Linked DNA regions of Homo sapiens: region 2 is linked to region 1. A link means that fine-mapping ties the variant in region 1 to the expression of a gene that starts in the linked region. Tissue or cell type: whole blood. Region 1 holds a variant in brackets; the other region holds the start of a gene. All regions are shown on one strand. Distances are from middle to middle.

What was found. PIP is the estimated chance that this variant, and not a neighbour inherited with it, causes the effect.
Region 2: it holds the start of TMTC1, and the variant in region 1 is fine-mapped to the expression of TMTC1 in whole blood (INTERVAL, PIP 0.95).

What each region holds. Positions count from the first base shown.
Region 1 is chr12:29,272,835-29,281,037 of GRCh38, forward strand. All of the region lies in intron 2 of FAR2 (fatty acyl-CoA reductase 2), which reads left to right. FAR2-AS1 (FAR2 antisense RNA 1) reads right to left here. Exons shown (of 7, transcript NR_103860.1): 7 at 7,581-8,203. Among named protein-coding and RNA genes, the nearest start is that of FAR2-AS1, 41 kb to the right of the region's middle. The variant T/C (reference allele first, on the strand shown) is at 3,245.
Region 2 is chr12:29,778,984-29,787,159 of GRCh38, forward strand. TMTC1 (transmembrane O-mannosyltransferase targeting cadherins 1) reads right to left here and starts at 4,959. Exons shown (of 18, transcript NM_001193451.2): 1 at 4,467-4,959. The coding sequence starts at 4,768.

The sequences.
Region 1 (8,203 bases):
GTTGTTGTTCTTGATGTTGTTGTCGCTTTCTGCTTGTTTTTCTTTCAATGGTCAGGTTCCTCTTCTGCAGGGCTGCTGCAGTTTGCTGGGCATTCGCTTCAGGCCTTATTCATCTGATTTTCTGCTGTGCCTGGAGATGTCACTCAAAGAGGCTGGAGAGCAGCAAAGATGGGTCCCTGCTCCTTCTCCTGGGACCTCTGACCTCGAGGGGCACCAGCCTGATGCCAGTAGGATTGCTCCTGTATAGAGTGTCTGACAACCCCTGTAGGAAGGTCTCACCCTGTTGTGGCATTGGGAGTAGGACCGTTTAACGAACCACTTTGTCCCTTGGTGGAGAGGGTGTGTTTCACTGGGGGGAAACCCACTTGTCTGGGTTGCCCTGATTCCTCAGAACTACCAGGAGGAGAGGCTAAGTCTGCTGGTCCACAGAGACTGCAGCCACCTCTCCCCTTAGGGGCTCAGGACCAGGGAGATCAGAATTCTGTTCCTAAGCCTCTGGCTAGAGTTATTGGAGATCCTGCAGGGAAGCCCCTCCCCCACCAACGAGGAAGGATGGGTGGGGGTTAGGCCTGAAGAGGCACTCTGGCCGCAGACTGCCACAGTGTGTGTGTGGCTGCCACGGTGTGTAGGGCTGTGGGGACAAGTCTTGGGACCAAGCCATCCAGCCTTCCTGGCACTAGCAGGGGAAAAGCACAGCCTGGAGCTATAGAAATGGGTGCCACCCTTCCCCTGCCCAGGGAGCTTAGCCTGTTAGGCAGTTGCCAGTCCCAGTGCTGGCTGCTGCCCCTCCCCCAAGGAGCTCAAATGGCTTAGACAGCAGGTGATGGCAGCCAGGGCTCGTCGCCCCTCTGCCCCCAGGAGTTCAGTAGGCTTAAGCAGATTTTAGCTGAGAGGCTGTAAGAATCTGCACTTTCTCAGGTTGGGATGGTAGGCCCTGGTGGCCTGGGTTCCGGAGTGGGCTCTTCTGACCCATAGGTTGCACTGTTCCATGGAAAAAGCAGTTCCCCGGGCCGGGTAGCATGCTCACTCACCACCTCCCTTGGCTGGGGAGAGGGGACTCCCCTTCGCCGTGTGGCTCTCAGGTGGGCCACCGCACCACACTGCTCTTCCTTCTCTTGGTGGGTCACACCAGCCTTCTAGTCAATTTTGATGAGAGAACCTGGATAACTCTGTTGCTGGCGAAGGATTCACACGGTTATTGTGTTTGTTTTTCTTTTTCTTTTTTTTAATTATACTTTAAGTTTTAGGGTACGTGTGTGCAGGTTTGTTACATATGTATACGTGTGCCATGTTGGTGTGCTGCACCCATTAACTCGTCATTTAACATTAGGTATATCTCCTAATGCTATCCCTCCCCCCTCCCCCCACCCCACAACAGGCCCCGGTATGTGATGTTCCCCTTCCTGTGTCCATGTGTTCTCATTGTTCAGTTCCCACCTCTGAGTGAGAACATGTGGTGTTTGGTTTTTTGTCCTTGTGATAGTTTGCTGAGAATGATGGTTTCCAGCTTCATCCGTGTCCCTACAAAGGACATGAACTCATCATTTTTTATGGCTGCCTAGTATTCCATGATGTATATGTGCCACATTTTCTTAATCCAGTCTATCATTATTGGACATTTGGGTTGGTTCCAAGTCTTTGCTATTGTGAATAGTGCCGCAATAAACATACATGTGCATGTGTCTTTATAGCAGCATGACTTATAATCCTTTGGGTATTGTCAGGCCTCTGAGCCCAAGCTAAGCCATCATATCCCCTGTGACCTGCACGTACACATCCAGCTGGCCGGTTCCTGCCTTAACTGATGACATTCCACCACAAAAGATGTGAAAATGGCCTGTTCCTGCCTTAACTGATGACATTGTCTTGTGAAATTCCTTCTCCTGGCTCATTCTGGCTCAAAATCTCCGCCACTGAGTACCTTGTGACCCCCACTCCTGCCCGCCAGAGAACAATCCCCCTTTTTCCTTTACCTACCCAAATCCTATAAAACGGCCCCCACCCCTATCTCCCTTCGCTGACTCTCTTTTCGGACTCAGCCCGCCTGCACCCAGGTGAAATAAACAGCCTTGTTGCTCACACAAAGCCTGTTTGGTGGTCTCCTCAAATGGACGCGCATGAAATTTGGTGCCGTGACTCGGATCGGGGGACCTCCCTGGGAGATCAATCCCGTCCTCCTGCTCTTTGCTCCATGAGAAAGATCCACCTATGACCTCAGGTTGGCACCAAATTTCATGCGCGTCCATGTGAAGAGACCACCAAACAGGCTTTGTGTGAGCAATAAAGCTTTTAATCATCTGGGTGCAGGCGGGCTGAGTCCGAAAAGAGAGTCAGCGAAGGGAGACAGGGGTGGGGCCGTTTTATAGGATTTGGGTAGGTAAAGGAAAAAGGTGGGTTGTTCTCTGGCAGGCAGGAGTGGGGGTCACAAGGTACTCAATGGGGGAGCTTTTGAGCCAGGATGAGCCAGGAGAAGGAATTTCACAAGACGATGTCATCAGTTAAGGCAGGAACAGGCCATTTTCACTTCTTTTGTGGTGGAATGTCATCAGTTAAGGCAGGAACCGGCCATCTGGATGTGTACGTGCAGGTCACTGGGGATATGATGGCCTAGCTTGGGGTCAGAGGCCTGACAGGTATATACCCAGTAATGGGATGGCTGGGTCAAATGGTATTTCTAGTTCTAGATCCCTGAGGAATCGCCACACTGACTTCCACAATGGTTGAACTAGTTTACAGTCCCACCAACAGTGTAAAAGTGTTATGTTTGTTTTTCGATGGGAGCCTCCAATCACCCCTGCTTCTAGTAGGCCATCTTGGTCGCACCTCTGGACTTTGTTTTCCTCACATAGTAGACGTTTCGTGTTAGTCTGGGAGCTTTGTTGCCAACTATGCATTTCTAGATAAATATTGTGGCAGAGAGTCTTGTGGTCAACCCAATCTTTACCTACTGCTTCTTTCAATGCAGTGTTTTTTATAACACGGCAACATTGCTTTTGTTCTGGAAATCGTGATTATACTCTATGTAACTTATCTGTGAAACTGCCTTGCAAATCTCAGCACCTGTTTTCACTATTGGGCTATTTACTGTCAGCTGTTGACTTTTATGAACAGTGGTTCTCAAAGTGTGGTCCCAATATCAGCAGCATTCAAGATCACCTGAGAACTATCTGTTGTGATCAGATGGTACTTAACAGCCTGGGCTTCAGAGGCAGACAGACCTGGGTGTGAATCTCCATACGACCAA[T/C]TGTGAGTTGTGTGATAGTGGACTAGATATATACTTTGCTGAGCCTTGGTTTCTTTATCTGTAAAATGCTGTAATAATACCTTGCTTACCCAGGGAGTCTCTGCGTCTTTCTCTCTTGCCCTCAAGCCTTTCTGGATTTAAGGTATGGCTTTTACCACTATTTCCTAGGGCCTCACTTTTTACTAAGTTAGGCTGTATACTAAGTTATGCCAAAAAAAGAAGTGTTTTTTTTCCCATAAATTTTTCCCTCAAAGAGTTGTGGGAGGAAGGGAATCTGATGTGTATAATATAGTTGAAAAACACATCTACGGTAGATCACAAACCATGTCTACATGGCCATTTTGTGGGTAACAAGAACAGATTCTATCACCTGATTATTAATGCACAAGCCATTAGCTATGCAAATATCTACTTTCTTGTCACTATATGGAATCTGATACCTGTAAAGAGATTTTCCATGGAAAAAAATATGTGCTTGATTTTATTGCTGCGTATCCCAAAACTGAAAAGTTTTTGCTACAAAATTGTGTATGCTTCAGAATATAAGAATGCTATCGCTGATTGGCTGTGGATAAAGCTCTGTGCAAATAAGGAATTATGCAAGAAGTAGTTACTGGCCATCTATGAGATTCAAGATATTATTGCTTGTATTCCCTTTGAAATTGAAAATTCAAAATAAAGACAAGACAGATAAAATTGTATTTTTTTATATTTTTTAAGTTATGGGGATGAGCTATGTTTGAAAGGTGAAAGAAACCTCTAGATTTTATATATATATATATGTAAAATCTCTAGATTATATATATATATGTGTGTGTATGTGCCACTGCACTCCAGCCTGGGCAACAGAGTGAAACTCTGTCTCAAAAAAAAAAATAGATAAAATACGTTTTTTATAAAATATTTATTTATTTTGAGACGGAGTCTCACTCTGTCACCCAGCTGCTAGAGTGCAGTGGCTCTATCTCAGCTCACTGCAACCTCTGCCACCTGGGTTCAAGCGATTCTCCTGCCTCAGCCTCCCGAGTAGCTGGGATTACAGGCATCTGCCACCGCGCCTGGCTAATTTTTGTAGTTTTAGTAGAGACGGGGTTTCACCATCGTGGCCAGGCTGGTCTTGAACTCCTGACCTCGTGATCCACCCACCTCAGCCTCCCAAAGTGCTGGGATTACAGGCATGAGCCATCACGCCTGGCCATAAAATAGTTTTAATGCATAGCTGACCTTGAGGCAAAATAAGGAAATCCGTAAGTGTCCAGAAATAACAAGAAAGTACACACCTACACACAAAAAGAGTGAGAAAAGTTGAACAAGCACACAAATATGACAAGTATTTATTGAGAGCCAAATGTATGTCAGGCACTTATTGCTTTGTGCCTGGGGAACAGGGGCAATAAAGTAGAAAATAAAACAGGCATGGAATTGGCCTCACAGATCTTAAAGTCCAGTGAGGCAAACGAGTTTCATAAGAAACACATGTATATTTAAGTATTTTCAAAAGTACTGTGAAGACAAAGAACACGGCAATTTGAGAGAGAAAATAACAAGTGACGCCTGCTTTAAAATTATCTGCCGGAAAAGGACTCCAGAGATAGTGCCACTGGAGCTCAGGAAGAGTTAATATGTTCAAGAAAATGCAGGAGGGCATTTCTTTCAGGTAGATGCCTAGGCTCTGCCTACTTTGCATGCTTCTATCTGACTATGTAAGGCAAAAATTTATAGAAGTATAATCATGCCTTTGCTGCAAAATGAGAAATAGACATTTAAGAAGAAATTTCCATCTCATCGAATGAGCATTTTGGTGCTATAGTAATTGTTTCAATTTAAAACATTCATTTGTACATATTTTCTTTCTTTTTTTTTTTTTTTTTTTTGAGATAGGGTCTCACTCTGTTGCCCAGGTTGGAGTACAGTTCACAATCAGCTCACTGTAACCTTAAACTCCTGGGTTCAAAGGATTCTCTTGCCTCAACCTCCTGAGTTGCTGGGAATACAGGCACACACTGCCAAAGCTGGCTAATTTTCAAATTTTTGTACAGATGGGATCTCACTATGTTGCTTAGGCTGGTCTTGAACTTGTGGCCTCAAACAGTCCTCCTGCCTCAGTCTCCCAAAGTGCTAGGATTACAAGTGTGAGCCACCACACCTGGTTTATATATATTTTCAATAGTTTTAATAAAATATGTTTATATTTAATAAGATATATTTATACAAATTTTCAGTAGTTTTATAACAACAAAGTCCCTTAGAGGCAGAGGATAGACTTTTTTTAAATTTCTGAGACATGGTCTCACTCTTATCACTAAGGCTGGAGGGCACTGCATGATCATTGTTCACTGCAGCCTCAACCTCCCGGGCTCACGTGATCCACCCACCTCAGCCTCCCAAGTAGCTGGGACCACAAATATGTGACACCATGCCCAGCTATTGTTTTTAATTTTTTTTTTTTTAAGACATGGTGGTCTCACTACATTGTACAGGCTGATCTCAAACTCCTGGTTTCAAGCAATCTTCTGGTCTCAGCCTCCCAAAGTGCTGGGACTACAGGCATGAGCCACCACACCTGGCTAGAGAACAGACTTTTAACAACAAAAAAGTACTTTTTATTCTAAGGTTGAATTTAGGAGGCTGTATAAAGTAAAGGTGGGTAGATGAGACTGATTGCTTACAGAAAGCTAGCTTTGTGTGCTGGACTTGATACTATTACAGGTTTCTTGAAAGATCTGGGAAAAATGTTTAAAATTGCAACTGGAAGACATTTGCTAGACTAGAAATGGAGACTCCTAAGCACTCAGGAATTCAGCAAATGGCTGCTGGTTGGGTTTTTATTTTTATTTTTTGGATTTAAGATACTATCGAACTCTAGTTTAGTTCTTTCTGAATTGAAGACAACTAATTGATGGGTATGTTTCATATTAGTAAAAGCAAAAAGCTTATTAATTTATATTTTACATTAACAAAACCCATAGAGGGAAATTCTACTTTGCCTTTGTAACCCATATGTCAGCTTGGGCATCCCTGCCCTGTAATAAAAATGTAATTAATGACATTCTCCAAGAATCGTTGAGAATTCTCAGATGGCTCATTTTTCATGGTCATTTCTGCTGTTGCCTGGGATGAATTAGGTATGTTTATGAATCATCTTTCATTTCTCATGGGCTCCATACCAAGTTGATCCAGACCAGGCCAAGGCCCTTTCTTCAGTTGTCATAAATTTAGAATCAAACAACAAAAAGAGAGAACACTTGCCTCGGACTGCCTACCACTCACAGGACTTGCCTTTACCTCCCACACATGAATGCCCAATCTTTCAATAGGTCATCCTCTACCCTGTTAATTGAGGTTTTCTGTGTTTATTTTTCTCATCATTTTAAGTCTTCCATTTATTGTAATCTAGGAGAAAATGAGGTCACTGAGTTTGTTAATTCATTATGCTGAGTTTAGTACACAAATTCTAAGCAATATTTCACAGACATGGCTTTTTCTTGGTGCAATAAATATGGGCTTTTGTAAACTGTTTTTTGCTTTTTGGTCCCACAGCTATGTTTTGGATGGTTAAAGATGCTAAAAGTCTAAACCCTCAATTGCAGGTTACTTGTAGGTTTAGTTGTTATACCTGTACTGGGAGGTAGCATAAGGCAGTAAAAAGAACACTGATGCTCTAGATACTCTCTCCTCAATCAGAGAGATAGAGCTTGGTAGAGAGACCATGGCCTAGTTACCTAACCCATATGAGTCTTGTTTTTATTATTCATAAACTGTATCTGATAATAATAGCTATTTCATATGGATTTGCAAAGATCAAATGTGATCCTAAGTATAAAATAATGTTTTATATTGTGCAATATAATTTTTTTTTTTTTTGAGATGAAGTCTAGCTCTGTCACCCAGGCTGGAGTGGAGTGGCACAATCTCTGCTCACTGCAACCTCCACCACCCGGGTTCAAGTGATTCTCCTGCCTCAGCCTCCCAAGTAGCTGGGATTACAGGCACCCGCCACCATGCCTAGCTAATTTTTGTATTTCTGATAGAGATGGGGTTTCACCATGTTGGCCAGGCTTGTCTCAAACTCCTGACCTCAGGCGATCTGCCTGCCTCGGCCTCCCAAAGTATTGGGATTACAGGCATGAGCCACTACTCCCGGCTAAATGTTAGTTTTTTATCAGTAACCTCTCATTTCTTTTACCCAGGTATGTTATTTTGTTCGTTATCCCTAGGCAAGACCCTCTAGATTGCCTGTAACAGTTTCACACTCTTATCAAGGATGTATATATTCCTGCATTCTCTTTTCTATAGTTAGTCATCATTTCATTAGAAAGATATTTAAGAATTCACATTTATATTACAACATTTAATTTGAAAAAAACTTTTTGCGGGAAAGGAAAGTATAATCAGAAATTCATCTATCATCTTAAAGTCCTAGGTTTCACCAGTCTGTGCCATATGTGTTCACATTAACTCTCCATTCTGCATGAGTTGTACTAATGTGGGTGCTGAAGGAGATAAACCCCCCAAATCAGTAGCTTAATACAAATGAAATTTGATTCTCAAACACAGTAGGTGTAATTGGTAGAAGGCATTGCACTCCACAGTCATTCAAGGATCCATGCTAAGGGAAGGTTGCCATCTTCTACACATGGCTTCTAAACCATCCAAGGTCTCTCTGGATGACAATAAAAAACTGTCAGTGGGGTAAAAGAGGCACTGGACATCATGTGGAAGGTTTTTGTGGCCCAGGCCCAGAAGTGCCTATCACATCTGTCCATATTCCATTCTCAGAACTGTCACTGGGCATCTAACCACAAGGATGGCTGGAAAATGCATAGCTGTGTGTCCAGGAGAAAAGGAAAATAGGATTGTTGAACAACTAATGAGGTTCTGCCATGGCCTTCTTTTTAGGTCGCCAAATATCTGCTTTCCTCTCTTTCCCACACATAGAAGACACTCATTCCTACCCCA
Region 2 (8,176 bases), 510 kb after region 1:
AAATACATGTCTGTTTTCCACTGCCTTTAAGGCTCCAACTTTAACAATGCAAGAGGCTTGCAAAAAGACTGGCACTCTTCCCTGCAGAGCTGCATACACACCTGCACCATGATTCCAAGTAGCTGAAAGACGAGATCTGGAGAGCACTGGAGGAGCTGAGGGCCTGGGTGCTGCTGCAAACCAACAGCATGTTCACCAACATTTCTGTGACAAACTGCAAGAGGCCTGGCAGCAACAAAACCTATGCCAACATTCTGAATGTGATCTTAGCCACTTCACTTTCACCTTCCAAATCTTGCAGAAATTTTTCTTATGGTCAGCCCTAACCCAGATCATCTTGCAAAGGCAATTCCAAGAAACATAGTCCCAACTTAGCTAAAGTGACATAGTGCAAAGCCACCACATCTTGGTAAGCTGCTTTCATATTCCACTGTCCCATCCCCTCAAAACTGGTAGAAGTAGATGGTCTGCAACCCATTTCCTCATTTCAAATTTTAGTTCATTTCTTACTTGAAAAAATACATAATTAGTATCTTTACTACCTAAGCAAGCACTTTTATTATTTATTAGTATACAAGCAACCACCTTTATAGCAAAAAGTATTATGCATCTATAAATTACATTTATTCTTAAGGAAATTTCTAGCTCTCAGTATGCGTAAGATACATTCAATGAATCAAAAATCAACTTACATTTTAATAAAAAATATGTTTGGAGTATTGCACTGAGAAAGGTCCTGTGAGGAGGACAAAAAGACAAGCTACAGAGTGGGAGAAAATATTTACCAATCACATACTTGACAAAGTACATGTATCTAGAATATATAAAGAACTTCAATACTCAACATTTAAAAAAAACACTTAAAAATGGACAAAAGACACAAAGGCACATTTACCAAACTCTTTGGTTTAATATCAGATGTTCAATAGCTTCACCCATTAGGGAATGGTAAATTAATGAGGTACATATATAGGTGTGATATCACTACATACCTATCAAAATGGCTACAGTAAAAAACAGCAACAATACAAAGTGCTGGCAGAAATGCACAGAAACTGGATTACTCAGACACTGCGGCTAGGAACATCTGGAAAACAGTATGGCAGCTTCATATAAAGCATATGAACATGCAGCCACCATATGGCCCAGCAATTGGACTCCTGGGCATTTAGAACAGAGAAATAAAAATCTATGTTTACATAAAAACCTGTAAGTGAATTTTTATAGCAGCTTTATCCCAGCCAAAAGTTGGAAACAACCTAGATGTCCCCAACAGGTGAATGGTTATACAAACTGTGGTATATCCATACAATGGAATACAACTCAGCAATAAAAAGGAACAAACTATGGATACATGCAACAGCCTGAATGAAGATCCAGAGACATGCTGAGTGCAAGAAGCCAATCTCAACAGGTTACATACTATGTGATTCCATTTATACAACAGTATTAAAATGGCAAAATGATAATGGAGAACAGATTCATGGTTGTTATGGATTTGGGTGAGGGGATTATGGATTAGGCAGTTGTTATAGATTAGGTGTCCATGATTGCAATAAAGAAGTACTGAGGATCCTTGGGATGGAATTGTTCCGTATCTTGACTGTGGAGGTACTCTCTGAAATCTACACATATGATAAAGCTGCATAAAACTAAATACACACTTAGTAAAATAAAAAAAATAGAAGTACATATAAAATGGGTGAAATCTGACTAAATGCTGTAGATTGCATCAATATCAATTTCCTGGTTGTAATATTATACCATAATAATACAGGATGTTACCATTGGGGGAAATGGATAGAGTAGAAGGAATCTCTCTATTATTACTTAAAACTGCATGGGAATGCACAATTACATTAAAAAAGTTTTTAAAACGGGTTTGAAATCTCAAAGTTTTTGCTCAAACAAGCATAATTTAAGATACAGTTAAAATGGTTTGCACATATTTAAAGGGCCCCTTCAATTGTGTTTTCACTATCTAAAATAAAAATCATAAAGACGTAATCTATGTGAAGTATCTAGGCCAATGCTTGGTTCATAGCGAATAGTTAATAAATACGGCTTTCTGTCCTTCCTTGTACCATCCTGTAGAGTTGTATGGTTCTAAAATCACTGATATCCTCCAGCTTCATGCTATACCTCAGGTGAATATAAAGAAAACTGTCCAGTCTTATTTAAATCAATGCATGTGAGGACAGAAAGACTACTTAACATTCTCTTTCTGAAGAGGCAGTTATCTCTTTCCAATTAGTGCTGTGTTTCTCTTCTAGATTTGCAACTCAATCTTCTCAAAAAAAGAGTGTATCTTTCATAGGCAGTAGCATATAATATACAGCAAGCCATGCCTCTTAGACACCAAGCTGCTTGTTACAATCAATGATTACCACAAGAGTCCCTCAGCTCTCTTCCTCCTGAATCCCCCAACTCTCCTTTGCCCTTGTTCTGTCAACTCCTAGCCAATTTTCCTCTTAATCAATGGTCTTACTTCTTTGTCTACTCCCTCCACCCCTCCCTTATGTGCCTGCTGTCTCCATTATGAAGAAAAATAAAACATTTTAGGTGAGGTACAGTAGCTCATGCCCACAAGTCCAGCACACTGGGAGGCTGAGGCTTAAAGATCGCTTAGCCCAGGAGTTCAACACCAGCCTAGACAACATAGGAAGACCCCATATCTACAAAAAAAATTTTAAAATATATCTGGATGCACGGCATGTGCCAGTAGTAGTTCCAGCTACTTGGGAGGCTGAGGCAGGAGAATTGCTTATGCCCAGAAGTTTCAGGCTACAGTGAGCAATAATCATGCCACTGCACTCCAGGCTGGAGGACAGAGTGAGATCCCATCCCAAAAAAGAAAAAAAGAGAAAAGACAGAGAAAAAAGAAGAAAACCTTCTAGAAAGTCAAGAAGTGAAAACACCCTTCCCTACTCTCCAGCAAGTAGGCACAGGCATTTGACTCTGCCCTTTTTAATTGAAAAATACTCAGACCTGTGACCAGGATGGTCTCCATGGCTGTTACAAAGATAGCAAGCACATCTCATGCTGTGAACTTGCACATCCTAAATTAACCAACAACCCTGACTGTAATAATGAAAAAGCAGGTCAATCTAGAAGTGAAACATTTATATTTGTCCCAAGGAGATTTTAAGAAACATCTGGGAAACTGAATAGCGAGGTTAGCCAAGGTTATCTTTCAGTAGAAAACGAGAACAACTTTCTAAGAGAACAAATGTCTATAACACATTCTCTTCAAAGTCAAATATGTAATTTTCTCACTCTCCTTAAAAACATTAAACTTTCAGTGGAAGACGTAAGTCAAAAGCCCATGAATTGTTGCCGATTGCTATGGTTTCCTTTTCTGAGTCATCAGAGACACCTGTCAAGAGGCCTCAGCCTCTCATCCAGAGCAGGCTTTTCAAGCTGCCAACCCAGTCTCAAATAATCATTACCATAAACACGGGTTCCTATTACACCCGTTGCAAAAAGGCTTAAAACGCCGATAATAGCGCACCAATATTATTTCAACAGTTTTGACCGGCGCGTTAAAATGAACTTCAATGCTGAGCCACATTATAAAGGGTTGAGTCAAGCTCCTGATTGTGTAAGATAGCATTTCCCTTAAATGAGCACTTCTCTTCTTTCCTCAGAAGCTAGGCTTCTTTTCAAATTAAAGAAAATACTCCACCCCTCAAAAACCTGGCATATTCTCGGTTCCCTTTACGCTTATTCACACCAGAAACGCTGAATCATGACTCCGAGGTTGTAAAAGAAAAACTATTTCGGCTGGGGCCCCAGGGTCCCTGGAGAAGCCTAGGCTCTGCGTTACCTCTCTCTGCACCTTCTAAAGTCTAGATCCAGAGAAGTCTGGCAGATTGGAGAGCCTCTGGGAGCAGCCAAGGGTGCAAGGCGGGGGCTGGGGGGCTCGGGAGAGTTTTCTGCTCCCTCTCCTGAACCCACGCAGCCCTGTCAGCTCAAGGCTCCCGCCTCGTCTCATCTGAACGAAACCCTTAAGGGGCTGATACACTTCTCATCTGCAAAGCTGCCCAACAGCCTCCGAGAAATTCTCTACTTGGAAGCATCGCCACCACCGCCACCCCTCCGGAACCCTCTGGGTCCGCGCTAGTCCCACTTGGTCACGATCCGGCAGGCGAAGGGGTGCGGAGGCGGTTTCACCAGCCCGCTCCCAGCCCTGCCTCGAGAGAGAAGCCCGCTGAGAGGGCAGACAGTTGAGAAACTCGATCCCAACTCCCCAGCCGGCGCCTCCCGAACCGCCCCGAGAGCCCAGATTAGCCGGGCAGTGGATCCCGGAGCAAAGTGCCATGCACATCCTGGAGAGGAGGGAGGCGTGGAGGGAAAGGGCGGCAAAAATGAAATGCCCCCAAGTCAGTCCCGCAACTTCTCCCGGTCCGAGGGACGGGCGGAGGGTAGAGGAGGCAGCGGCGGCTAGCGCGAGGTGAGGGACTCACTTGAAGGTGAGGACGCAGAGCGGCCGGTAGGACTTGTGGCTGGTGTTCTCGGCCATGCCCTTGCCCCAGAAGTCGTTGGTGAAGATGCCCCAGCGGAGCGGGGCGCCGGGCCGCACGTCGGGGTTGTTCACGATCGCCCACACGTCGTCGTGCACGAACTCGCCCTGCAGGGAGCGGCCGTAGCACAGGCAGCTTGCCCCGGCCAGCAGCGCCGCGGCCCCGGCCGGCGCTAGCCCGCAGCCCCGCCGCCGGGAGGGTGTGCGGTCCCCGCCGCCGCCTCGGGCAGAGGTGGTCACCACCATCGCGCCGCCGCCGCCGCTGCTGCCCTGGCCTCTCCCGGGCGTCTGGCATCCTCCCCTACCGGGGCCCCGGCGGCGCGCGGCGTCTGCCCGGAGGGGGGCTCGGGCATGGTGCTGCGGCAGCTGGACCCGCCGCGAGCTCCCCGCGCTCCGCCGCCGCCTGCGCCGCGGAGTTGGCCCAGCTGCAAATAAACAGCAGTCCCCCCGCCTCCCCCGGCCATCGCCACCTCCTCCGCCCCACTGCGCATGCCCGCTCGCTCTCTCTTCCACCGCCCCCCAATCCCGGGACGCGGGCCGGTTCCCCCGCACAGCCCGGCGCCCTCTGCCCCCGGCCCGCCTTGCTTGCAGGTGGACCGGGGTTCGCGGCGCGCGGCTGCCCGGGAGCTGCGGGGAAGGACACCCCAGGTTCCCACTTGCGGTGTCCGGCTGTGCTCACCCCCACGCCCCCGCCCCCATCCTTCTCCCCCGAATGGGGCTGGGAAGGGGCACATCTGGCGGACCCCTCCCGGGGGACCCAGGAGGGTTTAGCAGGTGCGCAGTCTGGAACCCCCACACCCACCTTCCAGGGAGAAAAGTGCCGCTGCTTCCCGGGAAGTTCCCGGCTTTTCAGCACCCGGGACAACAGCAGCGGCGCCCGGAGAGACGCTCTCCACCCGCCCCGCGCTCGCGTCCAGTCGCCGGCTCTGTGCTCTCCTGCCCGGGCTTTCTCTCACCCGCCCGGCGCGGCGTCCCGCTTGGCGGAGGAACCCGCGGGGATAGGGAGCACCTTCCTCAAAGCCAGGAGAAGGGGTCTCCCTGGACAAGGACATCCTGCTCGCCCTGCCCGGGTGTGTTCAGAGGCGCCACCGGCTCTTTAACTTTACAGCCCCTTTCTTGGCCCGCACTTACAAAAAGTACCAGGTTCGAGTTTTGGTTTGGGCCTGGGAGCCGAATTGTCTTCTGAAACATTTCTTATTTTATTGTTTGCTCAAGATAATTTGGGAGATGCCAAGCAAACTACTTTTTCTATCTAGCTGGATCACTTGGGTCTCATTATTTCCTGGGCTGTGGGCGTGTTTGAACAGGGCGGGGAAGAAGGTGGGGATGGGGGGATGGGGAGGTGGGGGCGATTTGTATTAGGGCCTCTGGCTTTGGCTCCTAAACTTCCTGTCTTTCTGAAAGATTGTTTTCTTTTTTAAAATACTAATTTTAATAATATGTCCCAGAGTGATGATTACTAGAATTTCTCCAGGTCTGAAAATTCTATTTGTTCTTTCAGGCACCTTCTAAATTTCCATTGCTGAGTGTTAGAAGTTATCAGGAATTTGACACATCCAGATAGAAAAACTGAAAATAAAAAGTCACCCTTTTATTCTCATCCTCCCCAAACCCTTAAAAAGCTCACCGACATAATCCAGAAATTGTTCCTCTGCTATGAGTATTTGTGTGGCTCTTTACTATAACAACTTACTTTTTAAAAAATTTTAAGACATCTGAGCAGTTGAAAAGTCAATGAATTAAGATAAACTTATTGTAACTCAAAGTACGTTTCACCCATTTTCACTTTGTTTATTTGGTGACTTGAAATTAGTGACTGAGAAATGAAACTGGAAGTCCTGGACATGGATGTTTTCATTCTTCCATCAAAATCTTTCACGCTTGGTAACCTTAATATACCGACTTTAATATCTAGACACACCTGAGTCTATTTCCCCGTATAACACACTACAGCCTTTCCTATTCACCTATTAACTTAATAAAAATATATTAAGGAGATTCTTTGTGCTACAATGTGCTAAGTATAGGATTGGAAGACCCAAAGCTGCTCGTGTGTGTGCGTCTGTATGTGTGTGTGGTTAACACCATAAAAGTCTAGCTTTCTAAGTTAACAGCTGATTGGGATAGTGAAATTATCTTTGCTGAAATCATAGTTGAGGTAATAGGTCAATGTATCAATCCTTACCTATAATTAACGGAGGCTTTCTAGAGAGAACGTCTTAACCCAAAAGAGTGACTCTAGGCCAGGTGCAATGGCTCACACCCGCAATCCCAGCACTTTGGGAGGCCAAGGCAGGAGCGTTGCTTGAGGCCAGGAGTTCAAGACTGGCCTGGGCTACAGAGTGAGACCCTGCCTCAAAAAAGAAAAGAAAAGAGTGGCCTCTAATAGTAGATTTTTATAGAAAGAAAGTCTTTTTTCCTTCCTCAAATTATCCTTAAGTCATCCTTTTCCAAGGAAGAGCTCTGGCTACCCCCTTCTTCTCGGAGTTGTTTTCTTTTTTAGATGGAAACAGTATCAGAGTGCTCCATGACCATGGAGAGTAGTGCAGGACTTGGGACTGAGACTCCAAAGAGATCATAAAAAGAAGAGATAAAGGAAACCTGAAAGTAGGATTCCTGGTTACCTAATCTTTCCTCTAGGTTCAGTGGCATCTTTATTCTATTTTGCTCAGATGACAAATTTGAGATTGACTTAAAATAGTGAAATGCTTCAAGTCTTCTCAAGGACAACTGATCAGTGAATATTTTTAAAAATTAGTTCCTTCGGGCCTGGCATGGTGGCCCACCCCTGTAATCCCAGCACTTTGGGAGGCCTAGGTGGGCAGATCAGGTCAGGAGATCGAGACCATCCTGGTCAACATGGTGAAACCCTGTCTCTACTAAAAATACAAAAATAACCTAGGCGTGGTGGCACGCGCCTGTAGTCCCAGCTACTTGGGAGGCCAAGGCAGGAGAATGGCTTGAACCTGGGAGGTGGAGGTTGCAGTGAGCCAAGATCACGCCACTGCACTCCAGCCTGGGGACCGTGTGAGACTCTATCTCTAAAAATAATAATAATAATAATAATAATAATAATAATAATTAGTTTCTTTGCAGCCTCATCACCTCCTGATTCAATACTGCTCTGTGTGGTAGGAAAAGTATAGAAGTACTGATGTCAGAGAGAGGTTTACATTGATATGCCAGCCCATCAAGCCATTTGCTTCTCTCTTAAAGTGGAAAACATCCATCTTGACTAATAAAGGGGCCCAAAAGGAAGTTAGATTTAATTCTTGTTACTTAGCCTCTAATTATTTTTAAAGGATTGATAATTAGCGCAATACTACCTCCTGAAACGCCTTGTGTCCACTCAAAAGCAATTTATAATAAAACATGAATTATTGTAGAAGTACCTCTCTGAGGCTCATATAGATTAAGTCACTCATGCAAATTAAGATGGACCATATTTCTGAAAGAGATTAGGACACAACTAAAAATAAATCAAGGGCAAGCTATTGTAATAAAACCAATTTCAAATTACTGCTAACAACAATTCTTTGCTTGACCAAACTTTAGTTAGTCTTCTGAAACTTCCTAGCACCATCATTGTACTTCCTTGTAAAATCCAGTTTTAGCAAAGAACACTACTAAGTCAGTTTGGCAAGAGAGTGATCA